Homo sapiens: one gene and its partners. The protein of the gene in region 1 interacts with the protein of each later gene in a pairwise test. Each region holds a gene or a part of one and is shown in the gene's direction. Other genes may lie near its edges.

Region 1 (3,500 bases):
CCCCCAACTCTCCCGGAGAGCCCAGAAAAGCTAGAAGACTTCCGCGTAACCGCCTCCGGACTCCCGTGGCTCCACTTCTTTCCCCAAAGGCCCAGCAATCTCCCTAGGGACCCGACGCAACAGGTTTGAGGCTCCACGCTTCACTTGCGGTGCCTTCTTTGGGGTGCCAACAAACCAAAACGCTTCCCCCCATCCCACTCCCATCTGCAGGACAACGTGGAGCGGGAAGAGACATGGCTGAGCGTGTGGGTGCACGAAGCGAAGGGGCTTCCCCGAGCAGCGGCGGGGGCACCCGGCGTGCGCGCCGAGCTGTGGCTGGATGGCGCGCTGCTGGCACGCACGGCGCCTCGGGCCGGCCCAGGCCAGCTCTTCTGGGCCGAGCGCTTCCACTTCGAGGCGCTGCCACCGGCACGTCGCCTGTCGCTGCGGCTGCGCGGCTTGGGCCCGGGAAGCGCGGTGCTGGGCCGCGTGGCCCTGGCGCTGGAGGAGCTGGACGCCCCACGCGCGCCTGCCGCCGGTCTGGAGCGCTGGTTCCCGCTGCTCGGGGCGCCGGCGGGCGCAGCGCTGCGGGCGCGGATTCGGGCGCGTCGCCTGCGCGTGCTGCCGTCCGAGCGCTACAAGGAGCTGGCGGAGTTCCTCACCTTCCACTATGCGCGCCTCTGCGGGGCCCTGGAGCCCGCGCTGCCTGCGCAGGCCAAGGAGGAGCTGGCGGCAGCCATGGTGCGCGTGCTGCGGGCCACCGGCCGGGCGCAGGTGCGGCACCGCGACAGCGCGGACCGGGGCTACCAGGGGTAGACCGATAACGCGCTTCGGGCAGGAGTTGGGGCGCAGGACCTGAGTTGCACCTGTAATGGGGGAGACACCTTGAAGGGGTGTGAGGGGCGTGGTCCAAGTGTCACCTGTAAGCGGCGGGGCACCTAGAAGGGCGGGGCACCTAGAAGGGCGGGGCCTGAACATCACCCGTAAGGGGCGGGGCACCTTGAAGGGCGGGACCTGAGCGTCAGCTGTGAGGGGCTGGGGCTGAGCTGCACCTGTAAGGGGCGGGGCACCTTGAAGGACTGGGCCTGAGCTTCAGCTGTGAGGGGCGGGGCCTAATTATCACCCATAAGGGGCGGGACACCTTGAAGAGCGGAGCCTAAGCTTCAGCTGCGACAGGGGCCTGAGCATCACGCGTGAGGGGCGGGGCCCAGGTTGCACCTCAGCGCTGAAAGGCTTAAATTTCTGCTGTGAGGGTTAGAGGTTCCGGCCTCGGTTATGAGCCCCAGCAGTAAGGACTGGGCCTAAGCATCAGCTACAAGGGGCGGGGCCTGTGCCTCTGGTGTGAGGGACCAGCCAAGGATCCGAATTCCCTTGGACTCTGTCTGCATCTGGTGCAACCTGACCTCCTGCCCTTCCTAGGCGCTGGTGACTGACCTGGGCACTGCGGAGCTGGCGCGCTGTGGAGGCCGTGAGGCGCTGCTGTTCCGGGAAAACACATTGGCCACCAAGGCTATCGATGAGTACATGAAGCTCGTGGCACAGGATTACCTCCAGGAGACCCTGGGTGAGCTGGGGGAGAGTCCATGTCAGCGGCCTGCTGGTGAGCTAGGGGACCTGGGTGAAGTTCTAAGAGTCCTTGAGCAACCTGGATTCTGGTAGTGAGTGGTGTTTTGGGGGTGCTAGGATCCTGGGGACAATTGGGAGCTCCCCAAGATGTTGGGTGCCTCCGGAATAACCTGAAGACAAGGTTGGAGGATGGGTGTGGCAGGTTTTGGTGGTCATGGCCCCAGCCCCTATCTGGCTGTGCTGGGCTGCAGGACAGGTTGTGCGGCGTCTCTGTGCTTCTACTGAGGACTGTGAAGTGGACCCCAGCAAATGTCCAGCCTCGGAGCTGCCAGAGCACCAGGCCAGACTTCGGAACAGCTGCGAGGAGGTCTTCGAAACCATTATCCATTCCTACGAGTGAGAATCAGGGCCCCAGCAGCTTAGCCCACCCCTGCTTACCATGCTAGCCCCGACCTCCAGTTTAGGGTGGCCAGATAAAATACAGGAGACACTCAGTTAAATTTGATGCAATAATTGGGACCATGCTTATACTAAAAAATTACTCATTTGAACCAGGCATGGTGACTCACGCCCGTAATCCCAATGCTTTAGGAGGCCGAGACAAGAGGATTGCTTGAGCCCAGGAGTTCAAGGCCAGTCTGGGCAACATAGCAAGACTCCATCTCTCCAAAAAGCTTTTTAAAAATGAGCTAGGCATGGTGGCACACACCTGTATTCCCAGCCGAGGCTGGAGGATCGCTTGAGCGCAGGATTCAAGGCTGCAGTGAGCTATGATCATGCCACAGCACCCCAGCCTGGTTGACAGAGACCCTGTCCCAAATAAAAGTAAAAATATAAATAAAAATCACTCCGTTATCTGAAATTCATGTTTAACTGGATGTCCTGAAGTTTCGTTTGCTGCATCTGGCAACCCTATCACCATGCAACCCTATCACCACTGACCCCAAGTAACCTGAGACCCAATTCCTTGTCCTGTAACCACAGTTGATTCCATATCCCCAATTTCATGCCACTGGCTCCAGTTAACATAGGACCTCAATCCTATGACCAGATGATGCCCCAAGTCCATGATCCCTGGCTTTAAGTGACCCTCCACCTCAAATCCCATGCAACTGATCACAGGAGACCTGGGATTCCAATCCCTTGACCTCTGACCCTAGGTTAACCTGCATACCTAATCCCTGACTTCAATCAAGTGACTTCTGACCCTAGGTGACCTCCAGAGCCCCAATCCTACTTTATATCTTGTACTCTGGCCCACCAGTCTCATGTCTAATTATAAGTACATCCAAGCTCATAACCTCTGTCTTCATGTGACCCTGTATCCCCAACTATAAGAGTATTATCCCCAGCGATTGCCATAGCTACACCATAAGCCATGGCCCCATGCTGATTCATAACCCCAAGCATTGTTATCTCAGATATTCCCAATCCTAGAGCCCAGACCCCAGGTTCAGTGAGAAGGAAGCCTGCATGGGCTTCATGAATAGCTCTCTGGAGGATCATGGACCAATCATGCAGTGCTTCTGGGACTCCCAACCTTATGACTTTAACCTTTATGCCCATAGCCTCCCCGTCTGACCATTCATTGCCTCTTCTGCACCAGCTGGTTCCCTGCGGAGCTGGGCATCGTGTTCTCAAGCTGGCGAGAAGCATGTAAAGAACGTGGCTCTGAGGTGCTGGGCCCCCGACTGGTGTGCGCCTCCCTCTTCCTGCGGCTCCTGTGCCCTGCCATCCTGGCACCCAGCCTCTTTGGTTTGGCACCAGACCATCCAGCACCCGGCCCAGCCCGCACCCTCACACTGATTGCCAAGGTCATCCAGAACCTCGCCAACCGTGCCCCGTAGGTGCTGGGAAGCTAGGGGTGGGGGGACCATGCTGGGAGTGTGGGGGTGGCAGGTGCCTGACCTGACCCACCCAGCCTGGCCCTGATCCAGGTTCGGTGAGAAGGAGGC
Region 2 (3,500 bases), on another chromosome or scaffold:
AACCATGAGAGAGGATGCCCTCAGAAGCCAAGAAAGGGAATGATGAAATGGACAATCACATACAGGGCTTCTGGTTGGCCAAGTAAAACAGGAATTTCAGGCCTGGAATTGACCATTAGATTTGCAATGTAGAAGTCACTGATTTCCTGTTTTTGTGGCAAACTAGAGTTGAAAATGATACTGCGACTTCAAGAGAAAATGAGATAAATGAAAGTGTCTTTAAAATAATTTTTATTTTAGAAAATGCCAAAGATATGGAATGGCTGCTGGGTTGGGATCAAAATCTTTTTTTTTTTTTTTATGTTGAGGGTATTATAGCATGTGCATTTGCTAATGGGAATAATCTAATCTAGAGAGAGGTACAAACTAGTTAAACAGGAGAGGAGTATATTTGAGGAGGCCATGTCCTGGAGCGGATTAGAGGAAATTAGATAGAGCATACAAATGGGAAGTTTGGTGTTAAGAACGTGGAGTAATTCTCTATAAAAACAGACAGAATAACATATGGGTATCCATTAGACACATAGATATGATGGAACCAGTGGATGGCAGTTGTCTTATAATTACATATCTTTTGTAAGTGAAATAGAAAAACCCCCGCAATCTCAACAGATAAGGCAGAGCTGAATAAGATATGAAAATTTTGAAGATAGCTAATGTATGGGATTATTCAGTAGAATGTTTGTGATTTAATCAGGGAAAAATATTAATTTCCCTATGGTAGAGTTGGCTTGGCTACATTAAAGCCCATATGAGGTTCAGAGTCAAGAAACTGAAGTGAGACCAGATAGCAATGGGTGTGTTTTCTCAAAGCCTGATCAAGAGTGTAGGTGCAGACATGGAGCAGGAAGACAGCTGTGATTCACTGACATTAGAGTTTCTAAGCAAGTAGGGTCAAGAGAATGCCAAGCTTGCTCAGAGCAATTTGTTAAAACTGGAGCACAGAATAGGGAGGAGAGAGTGGATGTGAAGCCGATGAGGAAGAGAGAAAAAACAATACAGTCCATTGACAGGAGGCCATAGCTAGGTCAAAAAAGAGAGTTATGGGGACAATAGTAAAGGGTAATCAGAGAGGTGCTTATCATTGATATGGAAAGAAATGCTAGTATGGTAATGGGATCTAGGTGCATAACCAGCCAGTGAGTGGGTGAGGTCATATTATTGGAATTAATAGGAACTGAGAGGTGAGGATGTTGTAACGACACTATATATGAAATACTTTGGACATGAAAATTTTTCTTGTCCCTGAAAACATATTCAACTTCTCCTAACCTATTAACATAATTGGTTTCATTATATAAATGTTAATACCCATTCCCATGCCAAGACTCTACAGTGTTGTCAGTGATCTCATTTACTTTTCTCTCTGCTTATGTAACATTTTGATCAGTCCTACAGACTGTATTAAAGAGCAATCTTCAGCCAGTGATCAAAGCAAGACAAAGAAGCCTTCAAATACAGCAGATTACAAGCCCATAATTTTTTTATGTGTTTATCATTTTGCCAAAATTTTGGATAAAAATAAAATTATATGTATTAATAATGTTAAGAACACATGAATTAATATTATTTTTAGGTTTTTATTTACAACTGCTGTTTTAACAATGACATACATTTTTAAAATTAATAATTATTTTTTCCCATGTTGTCTAAACAGCTTTAAATATATTTTAATGGGATGTCTCAAAGCTTAGATAAGAATGCTCAGCAAACATATCCAATTTTTAAAATGATATTCATTTTATTTTTGTATGATTATTGCAACATCACCTCTTCTGTATTATGTGGCCATGTGGAAGAGAATGAGAATGTCACATTCACTTACCTTTGAATAGCAGGCTACTTTGGTATGCATTTTTATTATCAGTAGAATATGTTTTTCAAGCATATATTTGCAAGTAATATTATTAGTAATTATCTTAATTTCCTGTATTTAGGAAACCTCTAGGTGTTAGAGACAGCAATATTGCCAAAACATTCTGAACATGTTTGAAAAAAATCAGAATGCAGTTTTCTATTTCTGTAAAATTCTCTGTGGAAAAAGAGAAGCTCTTAAAGTCTATTGGATGCTCTACAGCTATTTTGTCCAATAGAAATATAATTCAAGCAACATTTGCAATTTAAAGTAGCTACATTTAAAAAGTTAAAAAATGAACATGTGAAATTAATTTTAATAATATTTTTGATTTAATCCAATCTTTCAAAAATATCACTTCAAAATGTAATTAGTATGAAGTTATTAATGAGATAGTTTACATTTTTACGTTTCATGCTGTGTTTAATTAGTACTCACCGAACATCACAATTCAGGCGACCCTCATTTCAAGCGTTCCCTAACTACATCTGATAGGTGACTACCATTTAAGACAGCACAGGTTTAATACTCCAGAATATAAACGGTTCAAAAATATCTTCATAGCAACCATAGAATACATTTCAGGCATTGTATTTATCTCCTTGTTGAAAGGGGGAACACATATGAGTTTGAACGACCTTATCAAGGAAGAGAATTTACCTCACATTTTCTGAACCAGTGTTCTCTGGGTTCTACTATAGCTCTCATGTTATCATATTTACATACTTATGTTATTTTGATACTGAGAAGTATGTTAAAGATGGTGGCCTCTAGAAACAACTGGGACCAATATATTCTCTGCTTGCTATAATTTAAGAAAATTTACTAATTTAAGAAAATTTAACAGGTGTGAAAATCAGGCAATGATAAAAATGATAAAACTCAATTTAGGAGTCCACACAATTCTTAGTACTTTTTCTCTTTTTTTATAAATTAAATGCAATGTATAGATCTGGGAAATCATGAGATATTTAAGAAAAACAAGGAAAAAATAGAGTTTTTGAGGAAGAATTAAGATATGACGTTACAGGAATTACTTGGGAAAGAGTTGAAGACAATAATTACATGATTGGGAGGCAAAATAAAAACCAAGCAAGCTTTGAGAAATGTAAGAGTTTAATCTGGTCTTCCACTCTTTGCAGCTTTCCTTGCACATGGCGTCCATTTTCTGTTTTAGGGACTGGAAAGACAGATCTTTTGAGAAATACAAACACTGAGTATTCACTTCCTGTTATTTTGACATTTTTAATCCAATTCCTTTACTTGTCTTTACTAAGACAAACAACTATGCAAAAATGAAAGGAAACAAATGAAAACGGATCCCAGATCAATCAGCAGTTGTGTTAAGGATTCTACTTTCTAGTTAAATTTTTTATTTTCTTTATTGCTACCTTCTCCTATGTCAAAGGATGAAAACCAGAAATATAAACACTTAAAAAAAAAGATGATTGCAGAGTTGGTGGCCTCTATGTCTGAATAAATTACTAATTTATTTTGGCTAACATGGAGAAAATATGAGCAGGGATGAACGTTTCACTAGGATTTGAGCAACTAATCTTCGAATCAAAAGCTAACTTTTTTTTCTTAAGATTCCACGTCTTTTCCTTCTCAAGATTACAAACTCATCTATAAGTTTCATATTATA
Region 3 (3,500 bases), on another chromosome or scaffold:
CATTTACACACTAATGCTTCTAGCAGCACTATGAGGTAGACCAAGCTTGTCTAACCTGCAGCCTATGGGCTGCATGTGGCCCAAGACAGCTTTAAATGCAGCCCAACACAAATTTGTAAACTTTCTTAAAACATTATGAAATTTTTTTGTGATTTTTTTTTTTTTTAGCTTATCAGCAATCGTTAGTGTTAGTGTATTTTATGTGTGGCCCAAGACAATTCTTCTTCCAGTGTGGCCCAGGGAAGCCAAAAGATTGGACACCCTGGAGTTAGATACTCCAGTTATCTCCATTTTATAAAAGAGCAGAGTGAGGTTGCCGAGGGGAGGGGCTGAGATTGGAACCAGGCGCTTACCTGCTCCTGCCTGCATTGCTCTCCTGCCTGCATTGCTCTCCTGCCTCTGATGTTCTCTGTTCTCCACAATATCCTGCAGCAGTTTACCTGGTTCCCATTCACTTCTCTGGGAACTTCTTGAGGGTGAGAACTTATCTTTTTCATCTTTGCATCTGCAGTTCAGCAGCACAGTCTTTCACATAGAATAGATAATGTGTGGTTCAAAAAAACTGATATGGGACTGGGCACAGTGGCTCACACCCATAATCCCAGCACTTTGGGAGGCAGAGGCAGGGAGATCACTTGAGGCCAGGAGTTCGAGACCAGCCTGGTCAACATGGTGAAACCCCATCTCTACTAAAAATACAAAAATTAGCTGGGTGTGGTGGCGCGCCTGTAATCCCAGCTACTCGGGAGGCTGAGGTGGGAAAATCACTCGAACCCCGGAGGTGGAGGTTGCAGTGAGCTGGGATTGTGCCACTGTGCTCCAGCCTGGGTGACAGAGAGAGACTCTGTCTCAAAACAACAACAACAACAAACCTGTAATATGAATTAGAAGATGTTAAGAGAGAAACAGAATTTGGATAAGGCGGAGATTCTGGCAGGGGGTGGGAGAAGATAAAAAATTGATTCGTGGGAAGAAAGCCTTTAGCTGGAGCTTGTGTGGTAGAAAGAGGTAGAGAAGGTTGCTGCAGATGGAGGGGAATGACATGAGCAGACCCATTGGGAGGCAGTGGTGGACTGTTTGGGGGCGTGGAGGATAGGATGTATCTGGGGAAGTCCAGAGAATAGGCATTCATTTTTGAATCTTTCTGTTTTGCTAAGACAGACTTAGAGCCAAAGGCAGCACTCAGGCTTTTAAAGGCACAGCATCCCTAGTCTTAAGTATTGTTCTTACCTCAGGATTTATACAGGGCTCAAGTAGAATGATATTTGAGAAAGAAAGTGCCTTTTAAACTCTAAGATATTGTAGAAATATAAGTTGGTATTACTAATGTTGCTAGGTTGCTTTGATTTCACAGTGCTGTTCTCTATGAGAGCGTTTTTCTTTGGAAGAACTCAGAGCACCACATTGCTCATGTCCCTTGATCACCTCCCTGAAATCCCTTTCAGCTCATCGCTGGTGTTGGGCAGTACCTTGAGTCTGAGAGTGAGGGTGAGAATTAACATCCACACTGTGACAGAGCTGTGTGGGAAAAGCTGTCTTTTTCTTTCTCCCTTAGTGGCTACAGATGAAAGCTTGGCTAACTTCTTTTTTTAAAAAATAGTTTTTCCTTTCTTTTAATTGCAAAAGTGGTTCCAAACTAGAAATTAAAGTCCTCCTTCTCCTCTCCAGGCTGACCCCCAGAAGCCTCCTTTGTTACTAGTTTGGAGCAGATCCTTGCAGACGTTTTCCTCTGCATTCACATGCATGCAAATGTACTTCTGAATGCGCACGTATGTCTTTATATACAGATAGCTTTTAACAAATAGCAGGTGGGGCCGGCACTGTGGCTCACACCTGTAATTCCAGGACTTTGGGAGGCTGAGGCGGGGGGATCACTTGAGGCCAGAAGTTGGAGACCAGCCTGGCCAACATGGTGAAACACCATCTCTACTAAAAATACAAAAATTAGCTGGGCGTGGTGGCGGGTGTCTGTAGTCCCAGCTACTCAGGAGGCTGAGGCAGGAGAATCGCTTGAACCCAGGAGGCGGAGGTTGCAGTGAGCTGAGATTATGCCACTGCACGCCAGCCTGGGTGATAGAGCAAGACTCTGTCTCAATTAAAAAAAATATGTGGGGCCAGGCACCGTGGCTCACACCTGTAATCCTAGCACTTTTGGAGACTGAGGCGGGTGGATCGCCTGAGGTCAGGGGTTCAAGACCAGCCTTGCCAGCATGATGAAACCCTATCTCTACTAAAAATACAAAAAATTAGCTGGGCATCGTGGTGCGCGCTTGTAATCCCAGCTACTCGGGAGGCTGAGGCAAGAGAATTGCTTGAACCCGGCAGGTGGAGGTTGCAGTGAGCTGAGATCATGCCACTGCACTCCAACCTGGGTGACGAGAGTAAGACTCCATCTCAAAAAAAAAAAAAAAAAAAAAGTTTCCTAGAGGTAAAATTGCAGTTTCAGAGGATGTGCATTTAATGACTATGAACATTTCCATTATTTAACCATTTCCCTATCTGTGGACATTTAGTCTGTTTTCATGTTTTCAGGGTGTTGTGTTTGCTTTATTCTATTTTGCTATTATAAGGAGGGCTGTAGCAGTCCTATATCCTTTTTAGTGATAAGGTATGTGTCTGAATACTGGGATTTCATCATTATGAAGTAACTTGGTTAACTTCAGCAACTTTTACTTTTAGGATTACCATGTTGTTTTGCTTCATGTTTCAAGTGGAGGACAGAACTTCATTTATGATCTCGATACTGTCTTGCCATTTCCCTGCCTCTTTGACACTTATGTAGAAGATGCCTTTAAGTCTGATGATGACATTCACCCACAGTTTAGGAGGTGAGGACATTCAAGATGGATTTACTTATTTTCTGAAGTAAGAATTTGACGATTCCACAGAGGTTCTTTTTTTTTTTGACAATTGTTTTGTAAAGATCTCGTCTGACATCACCATTGAGTTGATGTTTAAGAATGATGTATTTGCAACACAGGAGATTCAAAATGTTTTAAAGCTTTAAAAGTTATCTATCATATGAAAGGTTGTCATTCTTTTAAAATTTTGTGTGATGAGATCTCAGACATTTAATTTCAAGCGGGTTGGGGATTTTTCTTATATTCTTTTTGTTTTTGTGGGGATACCTCGTGCTGTCACCATTGAGAGGGCTGTGAGGGCAGCATCAGAAAATCATGCCCATTGCCCTTGATACACAAATCGAGTAAATCGAGGCAACCAGATATATTTTTGTGCCTTTGCCTTTCTGTTTCGGGGTTTGGTTGATCATTTCCTATGCTTCTCTAATAGGTAGTAAAGTTGCCTGTATTACTAACCATACAGAAATGCATGAGTAGTTTTGTGCATGTCATAGGAAATGAGTCGATATAAAAATGGAGTTAGAATTTCAAACATGACATCTCCCTAATGTGAGTGTATATTGATTTTTCTGCAGGAAATTTAGAGTGATCCGTGCAGATTCATATTTGAAGAACTTTGCTTCTGACCGATCTCACATG
Region 4 (3,500 bases), on another chromosome or scaffold:
TGCTCATTACCAAAAGGAGGGCACCAAGCCATTCATGAGGCATCTGCCCCCATGGCCCACACACCTCCCACTAGACCCCACCTCCAACATTGGAGATCACATTTCAACATAAGAGTTGGCACAGACAAGCCAACCATATCCAAACCATAGCCAGAGCCTAGATTTTTCTCTATAAAAACAAACTCATGAGGGAAATTGATTTGGATATGTAGGCCCAAACCCCACATTGTCTGTAATTCTTTCTTTGTGCCCTTCTATATTTTCGTGTATATTTCTTTTCTGTGTTGTTCTGCTTCCTCCAAGAATAGTTTATATATTACATGCATAGTTTTCCCCAAACTATTTTCTCTACTTCATTATCTAGGCACCACGTCAAGACTCAAGGAAATGGGATTGTATGGACATTGTGTGGCTTTGGCGGTTCTGAGGGGTTCAGAGAGACCCCACTGGTGTGGAGAGAGCATCATGGCCTCGCACCTCGAGCATCCCAAAGTCTTCTTCAAAGAATTTATTTGTTTTTGGGCCTCGACTTTACAAGTTCGTTTGAAATGTCAGTTTCCCTCCCTGTATCTGGGGACCATTTTCTGCCATCATCAGAACGAGACCCAGGCCTCTTCTCAGGTTGCGCTGGGCTCATTTCTGTGGTAACCTTCTTTACTCAAAAGTGGGGAACAGGCTGGTCCTTGGCCACCTGCTACAGCTATGACATGATGTAACCCAGCGAGTCCCCCTCTTGTGTTTGAGCTCAGTGCAGGGAGAAAAAACAGCCGACTTCTTCTGCCAGTGTGCCCCAAGCTCATCATGGGGTGGCTGCAGTCTGGTCTCTAGGAAAAGAACACATTTTTGATAATGTGTTGCAATGGAAGTATTTTTCAGTTATAGAAGCCAGATTTTTTTTTAAATAAAATGAGAACCTCTTAAAAATAAAAACTCAAACCAGCTTCAGACTCTTCCATCCTTATCGACAGATCCCTGCTGGTTACATAGCATGGGTAGAAGTGGAAAAATCAAGAGTAAGCACTCTTCTGAGAGAGGAACTCTTTTCCCAATTGGCAGGAACAGCACAGGCATTTAAAACTTCCAGAAGTGGCTTCCAAGATCATCTGGGATCTAGTCATGTCCAGGTATTAAATATGTTTACCTAAACAGGTGCCCTCTGCCACTGGCTCTCCTGAGGTCTCAGGGACACTCCCTCCCTCCAACAACTTGGGAGCCCTTTTTATTTTTGGTAAAGGGAGGTGGGAAGAAAGGGGCTTGGCTGAGAGGATGGAGTGAGGCGATGTGCGTGCAGTGTACAGAGGTGTGATCCAGGGCTGCTCTCCTTCCTCACTGTCTGCTGCCACTCATCTCTGGGGGGCACTGCATCGATTGGGGTTTGCCAGACAAATAGAACTAATAGGTGTGTGTGTGTGTGTGTGTGTGTGTGTGTGTGGTGTGTGTTCACAGGTCTATATTCATCTATACTTATGTCTCTCAATATATATTATCTATATATGTTTCAATATATATATCTCATATGTAGAGACAGATATAGATGTATATATAGAGAGGGTACATCACATAATCTCTATATATATATATAGAGAGAGATTGATTGACTGATTGATTTTAAGAAATTGGCTCATGATTGTAGAGGCTGGCAAGTCAAAAATCTGCAGGGCAGGACAGCAGCCTGGAGACTTAGGGTAGAGTTGGTGCTGCAGCTTGGGTCTGAAGGTGATCTACTAGCAGAATCCCCTTTTCTTTAGGAGGAGTCAGTCTGTTTTTATTAAACCCTGCAACTGATTAGATGAGACTCACCTACATGCTGAAGGGTCTGCTGCTTTATTCAAGGTCTGCTGATTTAAATGTTAATCTAATATAAGAAATACTTTCATGGCAGCATCTAGAATGCTTGACCAAATATCTGGGTATTGCAACCCCACCAAGTTGACACATAAAATTAACCATCCCAGACACCCTTCCCCCACCACTATCCCAGTGGCTTGTTAACAAAGCCTTCACCTGTACCCTCTGTCTCCACGGCACACTATCCCATTGAGGACAGTGCAGGGCAAATAGGAAGAGGGACAGCCTGGTAAGAATGTATTTGTTCATATGCCTTGACTTAACGAGTTTGTTTGAAATCATAGGGTTCTTTTGTTTGCTTTCAAAGTGAGTTCTCTAAAAACCCTCCATTGGGATGGAGGGAGGGGAACAGCAACGTTTGGGGTTTCCAAACGTTGTTTTATGACTGTGCAGCATCACCTGCTGTATTCTGTCAGTAAAGATGAAGGAAAAGAGTATGAAGCTTTCTGTAGATTCCCTTGTTTAATTAAAAATGCACAGACTAGACATCAAAGGCGCAGTTTTCCCCCTTTTAAAGAATTTGCGATCTCACCAGAAACAAATTACCCAACAAAATGACAGGCATTGAAGTTACTGAAATCCTTAAGATCATTGTTGAGAGAGAATGTGGTGAATTTTAATCCCTAAAAACAACTCAGTTTCAAGGCACTGAGTAACTACTAAGATCAGCATATTGCAATCCTAAAACCTGACAGATGTAGTTTGGAAATGATATTAATTTCTTCATAAGAGCACCTGCTCAAAGCAATGTGCAATGGGACCCAAAATTTAGAAACTAAAATTAAAAAAGGGTATATATGAGAAAAACCAGAGATTGATAGTGAGAGTAAGTAGAGAATGGTAAAAAATTTATCAGAGTGCAGATGTAGAATGTTCTTTCATAGGAATATAATTTGCTATAGCCAAGGACTATCTACTATAACAGTCATGCATATTTTACAGTGTGATTATGATAAAACTTTAAAGGCCTAATCTTTTGTTTCTACAATGTCAATTTGAAGGAGGACTTTGTATCTATTTCAACATTAAATGAGTATCAATTTAAGGGTTTATCTCTTCAACAGCTTGGATCAAAGCTTTTATAGCCCCCATTAAAGAATACTGTTAAATGCTTATGATTCCTGAGATATAAGTTTGACACATAAAATGTGCTGTGATTTAGAACAGAGTTAATTAACAGATGTATCTTTTCATGCATGGCCCTTAGCACTATTTTTTATTGTAACTTAAAGGAATAGTTTATTTAGTTCTCTCTCTTTTTTTCCTGTTTAATATTAATAAAACACTGATAATATGAACAGACTTAGTGAGTACAGAATTGCATATATAAAAGGTACTGCCCACAGGTTGTATTCTAGGCCAAACTGCTAGCTACAGGAGAAAGTGACAGTAACGTTATGTTATTATTAAACTTAGGAAAAAATGGAAACATGATTCTTCAATAAATATTTATTGACTTTAGCTATGTGCTAGACATTGTTTTTGGTGCTATGAAGTCAGCGGTTGATGAGATTGTGCCCTAGAACTTCCATTCTGGTGAAACTTGCTCAAACCTTCCTGGGAGCATCGCCTCACTCGAGCAGACGACCAGAGGAGATAACTCAGGCTCAGGTTTTTAACTAGGTAAACACATAGTACAGATCTGAAAATAC
Region 5 (3,500 bases), on another chromosome or scaffold:
ATCTCCAAATTATGCAGCACCTGAAGTCATCTCAGGCAGGTAATAATCAGTGAAGCATAAGCTTTTTGTAATCTTGTGTTCATTTTGATAACATTTAATTACAATATATTCTCTATGGAAGGTAAGATTTTAACATGGTAGAAATGGATTATTCATTTATTTTTCCACTGTTAAAGGGATAATGGTTATATCAAAAAATGTTAAACATTTCATTTAGATGTCATTATAAATATACTTACGAAGTTTTCCCCATTAGAAAAATAACTGAAGTAGATCCTGATTTAACATATCTTTCATTTTACAAAAGTGCAGATAAGAGAGTAAGAATTTGCTAAATTTAAGCTAGTGTCATTTATTTATTAGATATAGTTCTTTAATAATACCTTGCATATTTTCCAAAGTATATAGAGCATTGTTTTATATTTTGTGTTTGGAAAAATGAGATTTTGGGGGAAAATATTGTTTCATGAAATTACACAAGTAGAGATTGTGTAGTTACTCATAACTTATTCATTGGTACATTATAAAAATGTTTATACAGATTGCAGTGGTAAACTCAAGTCTTTCTACAGTGATCAACGTGTGATTTTAAAAGTTAACAGAATCCTATAAGAGAAAATATGGTTAAAGTATTATTGCAAATAGCAGATAAAGAATTATCTTAGTCCATTTGGGCTGCTATAAGAAAGATACAATAAAGGTGATAGCTTATAAACAACAGAAATGTATTTCTCACAGTTCTGAAGTCTGGGAAGTCCAAGATCAAGATTTGGTATCTGGTGAGGGTCTGCTTCCTAATAGACTACTGTATGCTCACTGTAACTTCACATGGTGAAAGGGACAAGGGATCTCTCTGGGGTCGCTCTTATAAGGGCACTAATCCCATTCATGAGAACTCTGCACTAGTGACCTAATCACCCCCCTTAAGTCCCCACCTCCTAATACTATCTCCTTGGGGGTTAGGATTTCAACACATGAATTTTGAGAGGACATAAGCATTCAGTCCATTGCAAGGAGTTTGAACAATACAGCAAATGATGTAAACAATCACCATTTTTTATATAAACAGATTATATTCTTTTCATTAGAATAGTAAAGATTTACTTTGTTACCTCAGACCCAGGTTTGAGTATGGTAATATGCTATCATGGGAATTGTAATGCTGTAGAAACGTAAGAGAAAAAAGGAATAATACTATAAGCATAGGTTATCTGGATCAAAGATGATTTTAGTCATATGAGTTAGGAAGTGATGAGAATAGAAATAGTAAGTACTCAGGATAATGTGATACAGGATAAATACTGTCTACACAGTACTAATTAAGTACTTTAATGTTTTAAATATCTCTCTCTCTATATATATGATATATTATATATATATATATATATATTTTTTGTTTTGAGATAGAGTCTCGCTCTGTCACCTAGGCTAGAGTGCAGTGGCACAATCTCAGCTCACTGTACCACCTCCTGGGCTCAGATGATCCTCCCACCTCAGCCTTCTGAGTAGCTGGGACTAAGATGTGCACCACCATCCCTGGCTATTTTTTGTATTTTTAGTAGAAACAGCGTTTCACCATGTTGCCCAGGCTGGCCTCAAACTCGTAGCCTCAAGCAATCCGCCCGCCTCAGCCTCCCAAAGTACTAGGATTACAGGTGTGAGCTACCGTGACCAGCCTTAATATTCTTTAAAGGTGTGCCAGGGGTAGAAATTCTATTATATGTATACATTATATATATGTTTTCTTTCTTGTAATAGTTCTTTGGGAAAAAGATTTAACCTATACACCATAGTATTTTTTCAAGTTTGTGGTCATCTACTTTGTTTCCCTCAAAAATCAACCACAGAAAGTATTATATGTTTTAATTCGTATGTTTCAGTTAAATGAATTTGTGACAAATAAAAATACCCTATTCACTTGGCAGGCTTGAATAGTAGTTGGCTAGCCCCATTACTCTCTTTGGGGAACAAACACTGAATATTGGGGAGCAGCCATGGACTTCATTAAAGACCTTGGAAATGAATATGTACTGAATGTAGACTACCTATATATAGAAGTAGGGTACATAGAGAAAAAGTGATTCTTGCATTTCAGGTTTGTGTTGTCATCTTTTTTCTTAGATTGTATGCAGGTCCTGAAGTTGATATCTGGAGCTGTGGTGTTATCTTGTATGCTCTTCTTTGTGGCACCCTCCCATTTGATGATGAGCATGTACCTACGTTATTTAAGAAGATCCGAGGGGGTGTCTTTTATATCCCAGAATATCTCAATCGTTCTGTCGCCACTCTCCTGATGCATATGCTGCAGGTTGACCCACTGAAACGAGCAACTATCAAAGACATAAGGTGATTTTTCTTTTTGTTTCTGTTCTGCATATTTTCTCATAGGAATAATAATGTTAATTAAATGATTCTCCCAAAGTCTCATTTCCTGCCCTCACCACCTCACCCCAGTACTCATGCTTCAGCCACATTGAACTTGTCCTTGTTTCTCAAACCTAACATAGATTTTATGCCTTCATGTCTTTGTTTATATTATTCACTTTGCCTTGATGTCTTTTCTTGTTTCTTTTTTGACCTGATAGACTTCCATTCATCCATTAAAGTTCATGCCACCCCTTTTGTGATTTCCACACGTGCTTCCATTTCTGTTTTATCAACATTTTGTTCATGCTTTTATTATTTAATCCTCATCCTGTATCTAGTTATTTCTCAGTGTGTCTTTTTTCTCTCTTAAATTATGATATCAGGGTAGAGAGTGTGTCTTATTCATCTTTGACTACACAATGCTAAAAGGCCTGGAAAGATGGTATGCTTAGAAAGTGTCTGAAGAAATTTCAAATGGAGAAATAGGGTGAGATTTTGTATTTTACATATGGTTAAAGACATAAAGCATAAAAAGTTTTGCTAAGTTTTTGAATTCAATAGCTGCTAGTCAGCTTACTGTGAAGGCTTTTTTGTCACTTGAGAAAGTTTGGAAAGTGCCATTGCTGATGCGCCTATGAATATGACCTTTGTATATCCCACACCTGTGTATAGTAGCAAGATGATTCACTGCATCCTGCCTATGACTTATCAAGGCATGTTTCTTAGAGGTTTTTTCTTCTTACCTAAGATTTCATCCGTGTTTGTTTACAAACATGTTCTTTTGACATCTTTCCAGAACTCTTTCCCCTTTTCATCATTAGCCAGCAAAGAATTTTTTTTTTTTTTTAAGGCAGGGTCTCACTCTGTCGCCCAGGCTGGAGTGCAGTGGTGTGATCACAGCTCACTGTAGGTAGCCTCAACCTCCCAAGCTGAGGTGTTCCTCCCACCCCAGGCTCCTGAGTAGCTGGGACTATAGGCACAAGCCACCACACCCAGCTAATTTTTTTTAATTTTTTTATTTTTAGTAGAAATGGAGTTTTGCCATGTTGCCCAGGCTGGTCTTGAACTTCTGGGCTCAAGCAATCCACCCACCTTGCCCTCCCAAAGTGCTGGGATTACAAGTGTGAGTCGTT
Region 6 (3,500 bases), on another chromosome or scaffold:
GACATATTTAAGTTTTTGTAATTCCCTGAACATTCTGTGTCATCTTAGTCTTCCAGACCTTTGCTTATACTGCCTCCTCAGCCTAGAATGGTGTTCTTATGTTTCATTTGACTGTCTCCTTGTGTCCTTCTACACGTAGGTCAATCATTGCTAGGGAAATTTAGAGGTGGTAATAGCTAACCTGTTGAGCATTACTACAGTTCTTACATTTCTCTCTCCCACCTAGCTTGTGAACCTCTGGAAGGGCAGGAATGGATAGCTTTTATCTCTTTATACTTGGGAGAGAGTGCATACTGGGAGCCCACTGAATTATATTTTAACAAATCCCGTAATAGTTTTACAAGTTTGTTATTCAGCTGAGGAAGGATGTGTTTCCTCTCTTTGAATTCGTTACAGTTAAATGTGTTCCTACTTCCTAATAATCTTACCAGATGACAATAATAATTATGCCTCAGCTCTTCCATAAATGCTGAGTCTCCTGAAAGTATCAGGGACTCTAAAGGAGAGTAAATCTTAAATTCCTTTTAGGTAGGCCCAGTGTCTGTTCATTTCCACTTTGGCTTACATTGATTTCTTAGGTTTAGATTTAATACAGATGTGGTTGGATGATGTAGTAGAAATTGCCAGGCAGGTTGTGTGGGAAACCTGGATCCTATACCCCATTTTACCATAAATTTTAATATCGGGCAAGATATTTAACTTTTTGGGCTTCATAATCCACTTATTTCAGAAAGAACTATTGCCTTCATTACATGTATTCATCTTTCCATTCAATAAAGATTGGATTTCTACCGTGTGAGCCAGACACACATGTTGTCTGTCTCAGCATGTATACTCTAATTATTAGAGTCTGGAAATAAATTATATAGATTAATAAAACTGAAAAATTCTTGAAAGGTTAAAGTCCAAAGGAGGAAAAGCAAAAGCAAGAGACATTCAAGACATTTGGGTTTGCTGCTTGTACTTTTGATTGTTTTATTTATTTTTTATTTTTGTAAATGATAGGAAAGGCATTAAAACAATTGAATTGAGAAGTATTCTGTAGGATTAATTTACTCCCTTTTCCATCTGCTACCAAAGATAATGGGATAATGGCCCTGTAGAAGATTACCTGCGTTTTTCCAGAACCAGACAAAGGTTTAAGAGCTCTAAAGGAAAAAGTCAACCTTCATTGTTTGATTCCCACACTCACTCATGCCTGGCACTCTTCCAGGCACTGACTGTTACTGCAGCTGTGATTTCAACACAGAGCCAGTGCTCTTTCTGTCACATGGTAGCGTTGCCTTCAAATAACTGACGGTCATATCCGCCAGTGTTGTAATTTGGCTGGAATGCAGTATTTGCAATTTTATCAGCTTCATACAATTACAAGTCTTGCATACATAAAACAGCTGTGTGCTTTCCAGGTGTGCTTTGGGTGGTATAGTGGGACACCAAAGGAAAAGAAATACCATCATGAGTGCACCTCCTTCCCCGAGTTGAATTATCATCATGAAGGGTTCAGATTACAAACGTTATAGCTTTCCCACTTAATTTAGCATCTATTATTCCTGGCAGTGCCTTTTAAGATTACTAGTCAAGAGAAAAGATTTTCCTCATTTAGCTTAGCATTTTGTGAGCTGCCTTGGCACAGTTATAGTAAAAGCTTCAGTGGCTTTTTCAGTATAGTAAAAGCTTCACTGTATATAACAAACTTTGCTGGTACTTGGTATAAGGAGTAGATAAAGCCCTTCAGCTTGCTTACAGTGGCTTGCCATCAGTAGCACTGCCTTGCAGATACCCGTTTGACCTCATCTTCCTCCACTGACCCAGTTTTCTACTTCCAACTTTTCTAATACAGCTTGCAACCTCTGGCATAACTTCAGACCTTGGCCATTGGTCTCAACTGTTTGAAAACCTAAAGATTACTCACCCATCACGCTTAGTTTTGCAGCATGGTAGGGGGAATGGGAAGTAAATTCTTCTTAAAAAATTTTTTTATGTTGGGCTCGGCACGATGCTCACGCTTGTAATCCTAGCATTTTCAGAGGCCAAGGTGGGCACATCACTTGAGGTCAGGAGTTCAAGACCAGCCTGGCCAACATGGTGAAACCTCATCTCTACCAAAAAAAAAAAATACAAAAATTAGCCGGGTGTAGTGGTGCGCACCTGTAAACCCACCTACTTAGGAGGCTGAGGTGGGAGAATTGCTTGAACCCGGCAGGTGGAGGTTGCAGTGAGCTGTGATCGCCCCACTGCACCCCAGCCTGGGTGACAGAGCGAGACTCCGTCTCAAAAAAAAAAAAAAAAAAAGAAAAATCGTTTCTTTGTTTCTTGGATTTTAGATAGGGTGGGTGTATTATAAGATACCCAACTTAGAAAACCAAGGAGCTTGTAACACAAATAAATGGTTATTCATTCATGCATCAAATGGGAAAGTTGGCCATCTTTGAATATACTAAAATTATTACATGGAACTAGAACATCTTAAATTAGATTCTAAATTCCATGAGGGTAGGCACTCTCCCCCTGCCTCCCCTTCCTCCCACCCACCACACTTCACCTTTTTATTCCCAATAACTAGTATATAATGTCTGGCACATAGTAGGTCTTTAGTAAATATTTACTGAATGAATGAATGAATGGTCACAAGATGGTTTTTAAAAATTGTCTCCTGCAGAGAACCCACCACAGATGCCTTCTGTGTGATTTTTCAGTTTTATTCACATAGCAATTTTTATGTAACATAGTATTTAGTATATAGCTATGTAGAACAATCATAATATGTCCAGTTTTCAAAAGATTATTAACTTCTAAGGAAAAATTCTTTATCTCTAGGTTAATCTCTGGCTACTAGCTCAGTTTTTGGCACATTGTAAGCACTTAGTAAATGTTCGTTGGACTGAACCAACCCTATACAGAGACTTGATAACATTGTTCAGATGAAGATTACCATTGATTTTTTCTAAGTTCCTGGTAAAAGCATGTGATGGGAAGAAATATGATAGTATTTGAGAAAATAACTTTCCTAAGTTACTGTTGTCTTCTAGCACTGGACGGGTAGTCACAGGTTACAAATGAATAAGATTAATTTTGTTAGCTCCTGAAGGAAACAGAAAAACCTACTGTAAATCTCATCTCAGTATAAAAAGGGGCTTTAAAGAAGGATGTAATATTTGATGAGAAACTGCTCTCCACAAGGCACTTTGATATATGTCACGTTTTCCTTATAACCACCTACTATGATCTCTACTGTACAAATGAGAATTTAAGGTCAGGGAAGTTAAGTGCCTTGCCCAAAGTCACAGGACTGGTAAAGAAGGAGCAGATTCAGGATTCAAAGTTCAAGGCCTATGTTCTGTCTTGAAAAACCAGTGCTTTAAAAAACAAAACCAAAAAAAAAAACAGTGTTCCACTAGCCGAGGTTATAAATAAAATCTCTTCATCTTTGGAGAAAGTGTAACAGATGCTGCATGTTCCCTTCATCAGAAATGCCATAAAAGGGATTATAGGACACTGAA
Region 7 (3,500 bases), on another chromosome or scaffold:
CCTCCTCTTTCTCCCTCCCTCCTTCATTCCCTCCATCCCTCTCTTAACAGCTTGAAGATAATGGAATCACTCACTTTTTGTTCATAATTGGTAAGATTTTATTTAGTAGAATGATAATTCATTTTCAACAGCACTTTCTTGTTTGTTCAGTGGTTAGCAGGAAGAAGATGAGCCTTAAGTCTGAACGCCGAGGAATTCATGTGGATCAATCGGATCTCCTGTGCAAGAAAGGATGTGGTTACTACGGCAACCCTGCCTGGCAGGGTTTCTGCTCCAAGTGCTGGAGGGAAGAGTACCACAAAGCCAGGCAGAAGCAGATTCAGGAGGACTGGGAGCTGGCGGAGCGGTAAAAGGACTTAACTAGGGGCGGTTGAACAGTGACGTGACTGGATACATAGTTCTGTCACCGTCTAAATACATTTTTTCACTTCTGCTTTGAGCTATCAGCAAGTCAGTTTAATATTAAGGAAAAGGATGTTTTCCTCTCTTCTTCTCAGTCAGCTTTTAATGAACAGCTTTCAGTAGTTTCTTCATTTTGTGTTTGTCTTCTGATTATTTTCTTTGGGTTGTGTTAGTTTTAGTTCTCAAATGTAGACAATAAGCTCCTTGGAGTGGAAGAATGGAGATAGGCATATTTCCTGGTGAAGATTAAATGAGCTAATAAATTTGACGTACCCACTGCAGGGCTTGGAAATGGCACTCATCAAGCATTATTTCCCTCATTCTTTTAATATATATTTAGCATGGCATCTAGCTCAGTGATAAAACACAGTAGTAGAAATCTGTTGACTTGTATACATAGTCATTGCATTGTAGAAATTTAACTTATATTTAAAAATTAGGTTAGCATTTGGTATTATCCGGAAATATAATGATGTTAAAAATTAAACGATGGGCCGGGCGCAGTGGCTCACGCCTGTAATCCTAGCACTTTGGGAGGGTGAGGCAGGAGGATCATCTGAGGTCAGGAGTTCGAGACCAGCCTGACCAACATGGTGAAACCCCCTCTCTACTAAAAATATTAAAAAAGTTAGCCGGGCATGGTGGTACGCATTTGTTATCCCAGCTACTTGGGAGACTGAGGCAGGAGAATTGCTTGAACCCAGGTATCGGAGGTTGCAGTGAGCTGAGATCATGCCACTGCACTCCAGCTTGGGAGACAGAGTGAGACTCTGTCTCAAAAAAAAATAAATAAATAAATAAATAAATGATGGGATGGCTAGTGAGCATAGGAACTAATAAAATGCCATGAATAATGTTAATTCTTTGCCAGAGCATTCTAGAATTCTAAAACTGCTTCAACAGAAGAAAGTCAAATGGAATTCTGCCAACTCCTCTAGCTAGTTGTTTGTTTTTTTTTTTTCATCCAGTCAGCCAATATTTGTTGAGTGACTCCTTTGCTGTCATTTGTAGTGAACTCAGAGAATTAGAAATTACACATTGCTTTCAGTGACTGTGTTCAATCAAAGAGAGAAAATTTTAGCCGAGAACATGAATGATCTCCTCAGGGTTTCCACTGCATGCCTGATGCTGTCAGTAGCAGATCCTGTTTCAAAAACAGAGTAGAGGCCACTAGGCACAAACTCCCTCAGCTTCCTCCCCTCACCACATAAAAATGTCCTAGTACCTTTATATTAACTTCTTGTCTGTCCCAGAGAAAGAGGGGTCCCGATTCCACCCTCAGACTTAGCACCTCCACCTGTGATTTTTGTTTCTATTTCTTACTGCTTTTAATTGTGACCCTGCTAAATCTCTCGGAAAGCTTGTAAAAGCAGTGATTGCTGGACCTTACCCACAGAGTCTCTGATTTTAGTGGCTTGGGAGTAAGACTAGAGAATTTGCATTTCTGACAAGTTGCCTGGTGATGCTGCGCTGCTGTCTGGGGAATCATACTTGGAAAATCATTGTCTTTTAGATAGTGCTTGTGCTTTTTGTTTGTTTGTTTGTTTTTGAGACAGGGTCTTGCTCTGTTACCCTGGCTGGAGTGCAATGGTGCAATTTCAACTTACTGCAACCTCTGCTTCCTGGGCTCAAGTGATCCTCCTGCTTCAGCCTCCCAAGTAGCTAGGACTACAGAAGTATGCCACCATGCCCAGCTAAGTTTTGTATTTTATGTAGAGACAGGGTTTCACCATGTTGCCCAGGCTGGTCTCAAATTCCTGAGCTCAAGTGATCCGGCCGCCTTGGCCTCCCAGTGTGCTGGGATTACAGGCGTGAGCCACTGCACCTGGCCTGTGTTTGGGAATTAATACAGGTGGTTCACATGCAGCTAATCCAAAGCCAAATTTATTGCTTTTATTTATTATTCTCCGCATTCTGAACATTTTCCTCCTAACCCTTCTCCTGAGTCAATTAATGGCATCACTACTTACCAAGTTAGCTAAAAAACCTTGGTTTCATTCTTGATTTCTCTTTTATCTCCCATGCTAGCTACAACTTGACCAAGTTCTATTTCTTCCAACTCAGAAAAGTCTTTTGAATTTTACCTTTTGTACTCCTATTTTCCAGGTGCTTATTTTCTTTTACTTAAACCTTTATAATATACTCTTACTTCTTGTTCCTGTCTCTAGTTTCTCTACCCTTCAAGTTGTTCACACAGCTACCTGCATGATCTTTCTAAAGTACAGATCTGACAGCGATAACTCCTTGGATTTACAGTCTTTCTTGCTTCCCTACCACATGATGAAATCCAGAATAGTGGGCTCAGCAATCAAGATTCCCTACCCTCTGGAGCCTTCCTGTATATCCAGCATCACAGTTCATCACACGCCCAGTGCTCTGGCTACATTCAGCTTGTTGTGAAGCAAACCACAGGCTTGCACATTTGTAGTTCCTTCTTTCTGGAATGTCCTTTCACTTAGAATCCTATTCAGCCTTATTAGTCAGGTGTGGTGGTGTGCGCCTGTAGTCCCAATAACTTGGGAGGCTGAGGGATGAGAATTGCTTGAACTCGGGAGGCAGAGGTTGTAGTGAGCTGATACCATGCTATTACACTCCAGCCTGGGCGATGGAGTGACACTCTGTCTCAAAAACAACCAAAAAAAGGATCCTATTTATCCTTTAAGACCTCACCCAAACATCACCGTTGTAAAGCCTCGTCAGACTCCCCCAGCAGATTGAGTTGTTCTTTCCTGTGTTCTCACAGCACTCAACTTTTACTCTCTGATGTAGCAGCTGTCCCATTCTGTAGCAGTTGTTTACTTACCTTTTTGTCTGTTCCAGCCTTGAGCTTGTTAGGGAAAAGGATTAGACTTGATTTCTTTCATGTAACCCTAGAGCAGTAGCTGAATGAGTATGAGAAGACCCCATTTGAAATCTGTAGTGCATGAAGAGCCGTCCATCCTGTAGCAATGTGAGACCTCAGACTGATTTGGCATATTTAGTCTCTAGGTCTAAAATCTTTAGATCCTCCTGAATTAATGGAGTAATAACCTTCACATACAGAGAAACCTTGGAGAATATCTAGGTCATTCTAATCCTCTCTTGAATTGCAGACTCCA

The links.
Region 2: the proteins of RASAL3 (region 1) and CCDC102B interact in binary tests that used the Homo sapiens proteins (3 or more experiments, as listed by UniProt).
Region 3: the proteins of RASAL3 (region 1) and NTAQ1 interact in binary tests that used the Homo sapiens proteins (3 or more experiments, as listed by UniProt).
Region 4: the proteins of RASAL3 (region 1) and MTUS2 interact in binary tests that used the Homo sapiens proteins (3 or more experiments, as listed by UniProt).
Region 5: the proteins of RASAL3 (region 1) and PRKAA2 interact in binary tests that used the Homo sapiens proteins (3 or more experiments, as listed by UniProt).
Region 6: the proteins of RASAL3 (region 1) and KHDRBS3 interact in binary tests that used the Homo sapiens proteins (3 or more experiments, as listed by UniProt).
Region 7: the proteins of RASAL3 (region 1) and RABGEF1 interact in binary tests that used the Homo sapiens proteins (3 or more experiments, as listed by UniProt).

What each region holds. Positions count from the first base shown.
Region 1 is NC_000019.10:15,454,545-15,458,044, reverse strand, and holds part of RASAL3 (RAS protein activator like-3), read left to right. Parts: intron 1-210; coding exon 211-753; intron 754-1,398; coding exon 1,399-1,543; intron 1,544-1,796; coding exon 1,797-1,941; coding exon of another isoform or gene 1,942-1,945; exon of another isoform or gene 1,946-2,136; coding exon of another isoform or gene 2,137-2,196; exon of another isoform or gene 2,197-2,407; intron 2,408-3,113; coding exon of another isoform or gene 3,114-3,151; coding exon 3,152-3,388; intron 3,389-3,482; coding exon 3,483-3,500. UniProt on the Homo sapiens protein: Functions as a Ras GTPase-activating protein. Plays an important role in the expansion and functions of natural killer T (NKT) cells in the liver by negatively regulating RAS activity and the down-stream ERK signaling pathway.
Region 2 is NC_000018.10:68,804,580-68,808,079, forward strand, and holds part of CCDC102B (coiled-coil domain-containing protein 102B), read left to right. Parts: intron 1-3,500. UniProt on the Homo sapiens protein: During interphase, forms fibers at the proximal ends of centrioles to maintain centrosome cohesion. During mitosis, dissociates from the centrosome following phosphorylation to allow centrosome separation. Contributes to CROCC/rootletin filament formation.
Region 3 is NC_000008.11:123,433,774-123,437,273, forward strand, and holds part of NTAQ1 (protein N-terminal glutamine amidohydrolase), read left to right. Parts: intron 1-1,668; exon of another isoform or gene 1,669-1,739; coding exon of another isoform or gene 1,740-1,769; intron 1,770-2,679; coding exon 2,680-2,828; intron 2,829-3,436; coding exon 3,437-3,500. UniProt on the Homo sapiens protein: Mediates the side-chain deamidation of N-terminal glutamine residues to glutamate, an important step in N-end rule pathway of protein degradation.
Region 4 is NC_000013.11:29,029,839-29,033,338, forward strand, and holds part of MTUS2 (microtubule-associated tumor suppressor candidate 2), read left to right. Parts: intron 1-3,500. UniProt on the Homo sapiens protein: Binds microtubules. Together with MAPRE1 may target the microtubule depolymerase KIF2C to the plus-end of microtubules. May regulate the dynamics of microtubules at their growing distal tip.
Region 5 is NC_000001.11:56,693,814-56,697,313, forward strand, and holds part of PRKAA2 (5'-AMP-activated protein kinase catalytic subunit alpha-2), read left to right. Parts: coding exon 1-39; intron 40-2,121; coding exon 2,122-2,346; intron 2,347-3,500. UniProt on the Homo sapiens protein: Catalytic subunit of AMP-activated protein kinase (AMPK), an energy sensor protein kinase that plays a key role in regulating cellular energy metabolism.
Region 6 is NC_000008.11:135,582,956-135,586,455, forward strand, and holds part of KHDRBS3 (KH domain-containing, RNA-binding, signal transduction-associated protein 3), read left to right. Parts: intron 1-3,500. UniProt on the Homo sapiens protein: RNA-binding protein that plays a role in the regulation of alternative splicing and influences mRNA splice site selection and exon inclusion. Binds preferentially to the 5'-[AU]UAAA-3' motif in vitro.
Region 7 is NC_000007.14:66,771,733-66,775,232, forward strand, and holds part of RABGEF1 (rab5 GDP/GTP exchange factor), read left to right. Parts: intron 1-150; coding exon of another isoform or gene 151-167; coding exon 168-346; intron 347-1,958; coding exon of another isoform or gene 1,959-2,095; intron 2,096-3,494; coding exon 3,495-3,500. UniProt on the Homo sapiens protein: Rab effector protein acting as linker between gamma-adaptin, RAB4A or RAB5A. Involved in endocytic membrane fusion and membrane trafficking of recycling endosomes. Stimulates nucleotide exchange on RAB5A. Can act as a ubiquitin ligase.